3 separate regions of the Homo sapiens genome follow, and all the other regions are linked to region 2. The links come from fine-mapping of genetic effects on gene expression. A gene starts in region 2. Each other region holds a variant in brackets. All regions are shown on one strand. Distances are between the middles of the regions. Region 1 has its middle 5.8 kb from the start of DIDO1. Region 2 holds the start of SLC17A9 (solute carrier family 17 member 9). Region 3 has its middle 17 kb from the start of BHLHE23.

Region 1 (2,670 bases), 20 kb after region 2:
TTACAGGTGTGAACCACTGCATAGAGTGCTTCCTTTACTCAAATCATAGAATGTTTAAAAACCAGGATATCAGCCATGTTTCAAAACCACATTATTCCCATGGATGTTTTGTTTTACTCTCAAAACCCAAAAGCATAAAATCAAACCCCTACATACTGGAGACTTCAGGCTTTCAAAGAGATTGGGCAAATCAAACCACCTTACTTTTCAGGATAATTGATAAACCCATCAGTTGTTGATGCTTAGAATGGTTAGCAGAAGTAGGTAGGAAACACTCAGACCTCAATTTTCATGAACTTCACTTTTCACAGTATTTTAAACAATTAGAGATGTTGGAAAGAGGTAAGGAAGAATTTTACTATTTAGTCTGCTGCACATATTCTTTTGTTGTTGTTTTTTTGTTTGAGACAGAATTTCACTCTTGTTGCCCAGGCTGGAGTGCAATGGCACGATCTTGGCTCACTGCAACCTCCGCCTACCGGTTTAAGCGATTCTCCTGCCTCAGCCTCCTGAGTAACTGGGATTACAGACATGCGCCACCACGCCCGGCTAATTTTGTATTGTTAGTAGAGATGGGGTTTCTTCATGTTGGTCAGGCTGGTCTCGAACTCCAGACCTCAGGTGATCCACCTGCCTGGGCCTCCCAAAATGCTGGGAATACAGGCATGAGCCATGGCGCCTGGCCTGCTGCACATATTCTGACACCATGTGTCTGGTGAACCCAGACCCTGTAAAGAATCTTCACTGGTGATTGTTTGATATAGGTGACCTTCCCCCTCCCTCTTTTTGCCTGATTTTATTTCCCTTTCTAGATTATACCACTAAATCAGAAAGCACTGAATATTTTGTAAGTTTGTTTGGGTGAGAGCAAGAATAATCTTTTCTTGATTTTTATTTTTATTTTTTTAAAACCTTTAACTCCTGCTGAGGTTGAGACAAACCGTATCTAGCATACTGTTACCTGAAACAAATGTGGTAGGAGGGAAGGTGATACAGTCCTGCCATTGCAGACCAGTGGGAAAGGCCAAAGAGTATTTTGAGTAGCAATGTACATGGTCAAAGCATTGTTTATGTACTATTTCATTTGAGTTTGATTATGTAGTTTGAACCTGGCTGGTCAGGATTTGATAGACAGTTACTGGTTTGGGATCTGACTTTTCTTTTTTATAAAAATTAACAAAAAATATATGTAAATATACACACATACATGTGGATAGTTCTCTCTGTGTCTTAAGTTATTTGTATGCATGCAGCTGTTGTGATCACGTGTCTGATGGGCAGGTAGAAGTAGAAATAAGAGTTCCTATGTTTCCCAGGCTGGCCTTCAACTCCTGGGCTCAAGTGATCCTCTCTCCTGGGCCTCCCAAAGTGTCAGGATTACAGGCGTGAGCCACCGTGCCTGGCCCTACATTTACTCTTTAAATACTTTCCTATTGGAATGAAAGAGGCAGGGTGGCTCACACCTACAATCCCAGCACTTTGGGGAGGCTGAGACAGGGGAATCCCTTGAGGCCAGGAGTTTGAGACCAGCCAGGTCAACAAAGCAAGACCTCCCTGAA[G/A]GGAAAAAACCTCCAGTTCCCATTTGGGTGTCTTTTGGAAACTGCTAATACCTCAGTCTTTGTTGTTGTTGTTGGTATTTCCTCCAAACACACTCTTTCTCAGTTTTACCATTTTGTTTTTGTGAACTAAGCAAGAGCAGGAATTAATTTATATAGTTATTCATATCTGGACAAATTCTGGAAGGTTGCTGGAGTCTCTTTCACTTCTTAAAGTGTTTTCATTTAAGAAAAAAATCTTTAATTGTAGCCTGCACAATTGTAGCCCTATCCTTACCCCTAAGGTCCCATACTCCCAAGGCATTGAGGTTAGGTAGAAGGCCCAAGAATGGGGCCGGGGCCCATTGCGTCTGGAATGCAGTGTGAACTGATGGCTGTCTCTGACCTCATGGACATCCCTGCACCTTCCTCCTGGTGCTCGCCAGCAGGTGCAGGAATTCAGTCGTCTATGGGTTCGTTTCCCCTTTTTCGCGGGTCTCTATTCCGTGGTGTGAAGAGCCTGTAAGGGTAAATGTCCTATTTGGGTACAACCACTTTACTCTTATTCTGTCAGAATCTGTCCAAGCGTTTTTTTGGCTTGTTTGCTGTGTTCCTTTAAAGATGGTTGAGATAAAACCAGTCAGAAAAGAAATAGTTTTTTGCCCTATACTTAACTAAAATATTGATTTATTCCAAAGTTGTTTTTATTTACTTTTCACTGACCTCAAAGAGAAAACTTAGACACCTTAGAGAAACATGAAACATTCTCAGAGGAAGGAGTGATGAGCATGGTTCTGTATTAATGTGTTCACTCCTTAGCAGAAGATATAGAAATACTGCAGCTTAGGCCAGGCACTGTGGCTCATGCCTTCGGAATCCCAGCACTTTGGGAGGCAGAGGCGAGTGGATCCCTGGAGTTCGAGACCAGCCTGGGCAACATAGTGAAACCCCATCTCTACAAAAAATACAAAAACTAGCCAGTTGTGGTGGCATGCACCTGTAGTCCCAGCTACTCGGGAGGGTGAGGCAGGAGGGTTGCTTGAGCCTGGGAGGCAGAGGTTGCAGACAGCCAAGATCACACTACTGCACTCCAGCCTGGCAACAGGGTGAGACCTTGTCTCAAGGAAAACAACAA
Region 2 (2,670 bases):
GTGAGGAGGCCCTGAATCCCTGGGGAGCTGGCCCTGCCCGGCAGGCCTGGATGAACGTGGGTGGGGGAAGAGGAAGAGAGCAAGGGGCAGGGCCCGCTGAGGGCAGCCCTCCCCTCTAATTGGCGCCTGACAGGGCTGTGATCTGGGCTGCCAGCTTTTCCCATGCAGCCAGCGCTCCCTTCATCTGGGTGCCAACATCCGATGGTGGCACTGCCCCTTTGGGCCTTCCTACAACTCTTCCCAGCACTTCTAGGGTCCTCAGCCCTCATACAGCTGGGAACTGGTGGGGCCAGAAGGTGCCATTACCTTGCCATGGTCAGGGTAGGTACCCTGGGGACTCAGTGCAGGCAGGAGACTGCTCTGGAACCCACAGGGCCTGAGTCTAGGCCCAGGGTCCAGCCACTTAAGGCCTCAGCCCAAGACCCAGAGCCAAGGGGTTCAGCAGTGTGGGGGCTGCTCTCAGGAGCTCCCTGGCAGAGGCCCTCCCCAGCTGACCAATGGCCCGCGGTCACCATCTCGCCCGGTTTCTGAGGCGTCACCTGCCCAGGGAGCCTCCTACAGGCAGCAGTGCTGGTGGCCAGGCGACCTGCCCAGGCCCTGCTTCTCCCCACCACCAAATGCTCCGAGAGCTGAAGCCAGCGGGGAGCTCGTCCTCAGCACACAGCTGGCACGTGGTGGCAGGACCCCCCCCAACCCCGTCCAGCTGCAGGCTCCAGCCCGTGCCCCCTACCTGGCCTCCTGACTGTCCTGGCGCCTGCTTGTCAGGGTCATGCATACACAGGGTGGTTCCACCTGGCGAGGGGTATGCCTCCTGACTGTCCAGGACAATGCCCCTGGCCTGGGGAACATAGCCCTGCCTGGAAGAGCCCCAGGAACACTGGCTGGGATAGGGCACTTGCCAGGTCCGGTCCTGGAATCTCATGGCAGGGAGGAAGGACAGGGCACTCACTTCCTTCCACCTCCCACAAGGAACACAGGGGGCCCCACAGCCAGAGGAGCCCGCCCAGCTCAGCCCTCCCCACCTAGCATCGTCCCACGTGGCAGTATCTCAGCTCCCTCCCCACGGCCCCATCTCCACCGCTCCCACCCCCCCTCCCCTCACCCCCGCCACACCTGGACCACTGGGTGTCCCCGGCCATGTCCCTGCGGGCCTCGTCTGGGGGTGGCTGCATCGGGCTTGGGGTGCTCAGACGGCGTGGGCACAGCTGTGTCCCGGGGCTGCCTCCCAGCCCAGGCTGACCCACCCGGGCAGCACCGCCCAAGTCCACGTGTCAGTCCCAGCGCGCTTCCGTCTGGTTCTCTCAGGACTTGTCGCCCCCAGACGGCCACCAGGGCGGGCAGGCGGGGCAGGGCGGGGCATACCACTCGGGTGCCCGCCCCACCCTGCTGACGTCGGTCCCTGCTGCCCCATAGGAGCGGGGCCAACGGTCGCCCTGGCTGGGTCGCCCTGACTGTCCGACGCGCCCTGGCTCAGCCCCAGCAGAGGTTAGTGTGGGGGCAGAGGGGGATTCCCAGCAGCAGGCCGGTCAGACTGGGGCTTCAGAGAAGGGCCCTGGTGGTAAGCCTGGTCCAAGAGGTGCCAGCCCATCCCTTGGACACGACACGGAGCCATGGGGCCGTCTGTCCTCTGTCTATAAAATGGGGAATGATGGCAGTCCCTGCCTTACCGATCAAATAAAATCAGGGATAAAGTCTTAACCAAGTGCAAAGAGAGTAAAAGTACAGGGTCACTGATTTTTAAAATGGATCTTTCGGGGCAGGGATGGGTCCACTCCTGAGCCCTTGGACCAAGCCTGGGAGAGCTGGACAAATCCAGCGCTGGCCCATGTCTTCTCAGCAGATGCCTGTGAAGGTTGTCATTGGCCCCTGGGTTCCTGGACAAAAGGTGTCCTGAGGACCCATCACAGGCCAGGTTCTGGGCTCGGGGGCAGGGGTGACGGGGTGGGGCCCCCACTCTGTGTGCTCCTGCTGCCATGCCAAGGATGAAGCCAGCAGGGGAAGGCCTCAACCATGCAGCCTTTCCCCAGGAGGCGGCAGGGCCTGCTCCTCAGGCGTTGCCCCCACCTCCACTAGGGCCCACCTCAGTCCATCCTCCACGCAGCAGCCACCACCCAGGGGCCGAGGGAGACACGTCTAAGGCAGGGCCTTGCACTTAGAACAGACCCACATTTACCCCCTCCCTCCCCCTAGCCCTCAGGTCTCCAACAGCCCAACCCACTGCACTGCAGGGCCTGCTCCCAGGGCCCTCTGAACAGAAAGACACGGGCACCCTGAAAAGCAAGGTCATACTTTCATCCATCCTGACGTAGGGTAGGTGAAAAGATGGTGGCAGAGAGAGGTTTATTGCCCCAAACAGCCCTAGCCCATAGCCAGGAAGTTTGGAAACTGTTGCTAAACGTATCGCTGTCAACAGCACCCTCTTTGAGGTGATTCGCTTCCATTCACTCTGTGATGGTGATTTCCTACCGAGATCTGTGATCATGCTGCAGCAGACATTTGCCATCTGGTTACCCAAAGTCCCCTTCCTCCTGGAGCTGATGTTCTGGGGCAGGTAGACAAAAATCAAAGTAGTGAAAGGGGTAGGGAAGGGGTGTTACTTCAAATAGGTTGGGCTGAGGAGGCACCCCTGGACACCTGAGTGAAGGCTGGATGAGCTGAAGAAACGGGCCA
Region 3 (2,670 bases), 38 kb before region 2:
AGTAAATATCCCTTCCCTAAAAAGCAGAATGACAGCCTGTTGCAAACAGTGCTTCTGGCTACTTGCTTCCTTAGTCGATCTGGGAACTGTCTGCATCGTGTGTGTGACTGAGCCCGGCTCCTCTGAGCAGCAGCTCAGGTTCCATCTCTGACTTCCTGGCCTTTGCCAGCAGCTTGCAGTGCTGGGAGCTGGGATTGACGGCCACCACCAGACGCAGAAAGAGGCAAGGAGAATCCCCCTAGGAGGACTCATGCCCTGCCCACACCTTGATTTGGGGCTTCTGGCCTCCGGGACCATGAGGGGATCAGTTTCTCTTGTTTTAAGCTGCCCAGTTTGTGGTACTTCACGGTAGCAGTTCCAGAAGATGAAAGCAGCACCTGCCGTGAAAAATCCTAAACTTGGGCTGCGGCGTGGACGTGTGCCCCCACGCCCTTTGGCATCCTCCTGGGGTGGTGGCTTTCCTTTCCACTTGGGCCTGTTCACATCTTTCGTGTAAGTTTTTTTCTCCCAGAGGAATGAGAGGAGAGGGTGGGCGAGCTGTCAGTATGAAATTCCATCAAGTGTGCATGGCAGCAAAGCTGCCCCCACCCCACAGGTCAGCCAGCCAGGGTGCCCAGAAATTGGGCACAGAGACCCTTGTGTGGTCCTGTGGGCCTCTGCAGCCCGGCACGGGAGCCCCCACTGTGGAGGTGTTGGATATTGGGTGGATCAGGTACTGAGTGCTCAGCAGCCTGGCTCAGGAGCCCCTACCGTGGAGGTGTTGGAGATGAGGTGGGTGAGGGACTGATCGCTCTATAGCCCAGCTCAGGAACCGCCGTTGTGGAGTTGTTGGAGGTTGGGTGGGCTCAGGTACTAAGTGCCCACAAGCCGGCGCACTCCCCGCTGGGACCCTTAACCTAATCACGCGTTTTACCACGTTCACAGGCTGTGAAGAGCTGTGGAGATTGGGTGGGTCAGGTCCTAAGCACTCCGCAGTGCAAGCCACGAAGCCAGGCTCTCGTTCCCGTCTTGCAGATGGGGTGGTGGCGGGTGAAGGAGACCCAGGGCCTCCTGCTGCTTTCGGAGGAGCCGGAACTCAGGGCCCAAGGCAGCTGCAGGCAAGTCTCCCGGCTGGCCCCATAGAGGCAGCCCCTGCCTGGGGTGGAAAGTATGCAGGGAGGCGGCTCTCTGGCACACACCGAC[G/A]CTCTCCTGGTCCAGGCATTTGCATTCTTGAACAGAAGGTCATGCACCCTCCACCTCAGGATGCTCAGACCAAGGAGCACGGAGGGTGGCCTTGCTGGGCTCTCCTGAAAGTCACAAGCACCTTGGAGGCCACCCCAGGAACGTTAGGAGAAGGCAATGCCAGCCGGGCCACCCCAGGAACGTTAGGAGAAGGCAATGCCAGCCGGGCCACCCCGGGAACGTTAGGAGAAGGCAATGCCAGCCGGGCCACCCCGGGAACGTTAGGAGAAGGCAATGCCAGCCGGGCCACCCCGGGAACGTTAGGAGAAGGCAATGCCAGCCGGGCCACCCCGGGAACATTAGGAGAAGGCAATGCCAGCCGGGCCACCCCGGGAACGTTAGGAGAAGGCAATGCCAGCCGGGCCACCCCGGGAACGTTAGGAGAAGGCAATGCCAGCCGGGCCACCCCGGGAACGTTAGGAGAAGGCAATGCCAGCCGGGCCACCCCGGGAACGTTAGGAGAAGGCAATGCCAGCCGGGCCACCCCGGGAACGTTAGGAGAAGGCAATGCCAGCCGGGCCACCCCGGGAACGTTAGGAGAAGGCAATGCCAGCCGGGCCACCCCAGAAGGGGCGTGTGTCAGTGGCTGGGAGGATGGCCTCAGTCCTCCATGTCCACGCCAGGAAACAGGTGTGGGGTCTGGGCTGATGCAGAGAAGACGAGCAGGGAAAGGGGTCCCGATCCAGACCCCAAGAAAGGGTTTTTGGGTCTCATGCAAGAAAGAATTTGCGGCGAGTCCATAAAGTGAAAGTAAATTAGGAAAGTAAAAGAACAAAAGAACGGGGACTCCATAGGCAGAGCCACCGCATGGGCTGCTGACTAAGGTCACTTACACGTATTTCTTGATTATATGCTAAGCAAGGGGTGGATTATTGATGAGTTCTCTGGGAAAGGGGTGGGCAATTCCCAGAACTGAGGGTTCCTCCCCTTTTTGGACCATATAGCGTAACTTCCTGATGTTGCCGTGGCATCTGTAAACTGCCATGGCACTAGCAGGAGCGTCTTTTAGCCGCTAACCTATTATAATTAGTGTGTAATGAGCAGGGCGGGTGAGCAGAGGCCACTCTTCTCACCGTCTTGGTTTTGGTCGTTTTGGCCGGCATCTCTACCACATCCTGTTTACCAGCAGGGTCTTTATGACCTGCATCTTGTGATACCAGTCCTGCCGACCTCCAATCTCATCCTGTGACTCCGAATGCCTCACCCCTGGGAGTGCAGCACAGCAGGTCTGAGCCTCATTTTACCCACTCCCTACTCAAGATGGACTCATTCTGCTTTGAGCCCCTCTGACCACAGTATTGGAGGAACAGGAATTGGGGTGCAGCTTAGCTGGGTGGTTTTCACAGGAGGTTGCTGTTGAGGTGCTGGCCGTGGCTCCGGTCATCTGAAGGACCCACTTCCAGTTGGGGTGTGGCTTAGCTGGACGTTTTTCCCAGGAGGTTGCTGTCG

What was found. PIP is the estimated chance that this variant, and not a neighbour inherited with it, causes the effect.
Region 1: its variant is the best candidate, but not a certain one, in a credible set for the expression of SLC17A9 in whole blood (INTERVAL, PIP 0.74).
Region 3: its variant is the best candidate, but not a certain one, in a credible set for the expression of SLC17A9 in subcutaneous fat (GTEx, PIP 0.83).

What each region holds. Positions count from the first base shown.
Region 1 is chr20:62,930,946-62,933,615 of GRCh38, reverse strand. It overlaps a transcript of DIDO1 not described here. Among named protein-coding and RNA genes, the nearest start is that of DIDO1, 5.8 kb to the right of the region's middle. The variant G/A (reference allele first, on the strand shown) is at 1,560.
Region 2 is chr20:62,951,333-62,954,002 of GRCh38, reverse strand. SLC17A9 (solute carrier family 17 member 9) reads right to left here and starts at 1,294. Exons shown (of 13, transcript NM_022082.4): 1 at 1,114-1,294. The coding sequence starts at 1,172. RefSeq lists silencers at 1,074-1,173, 1,184-1,503 and an enhancer at 1,055-1,884.
Region 3 is chr20:62,988,905-62,991,574 of GRCh38, reverse strand. No RefSeq gene overlaps it. Among named protein-coding and RNA genes, the nearest start is that of BHLHE23, 17 kb to the left of the region's middle. The variant G/A (reference allele first, on the strand shown) is at 1,183.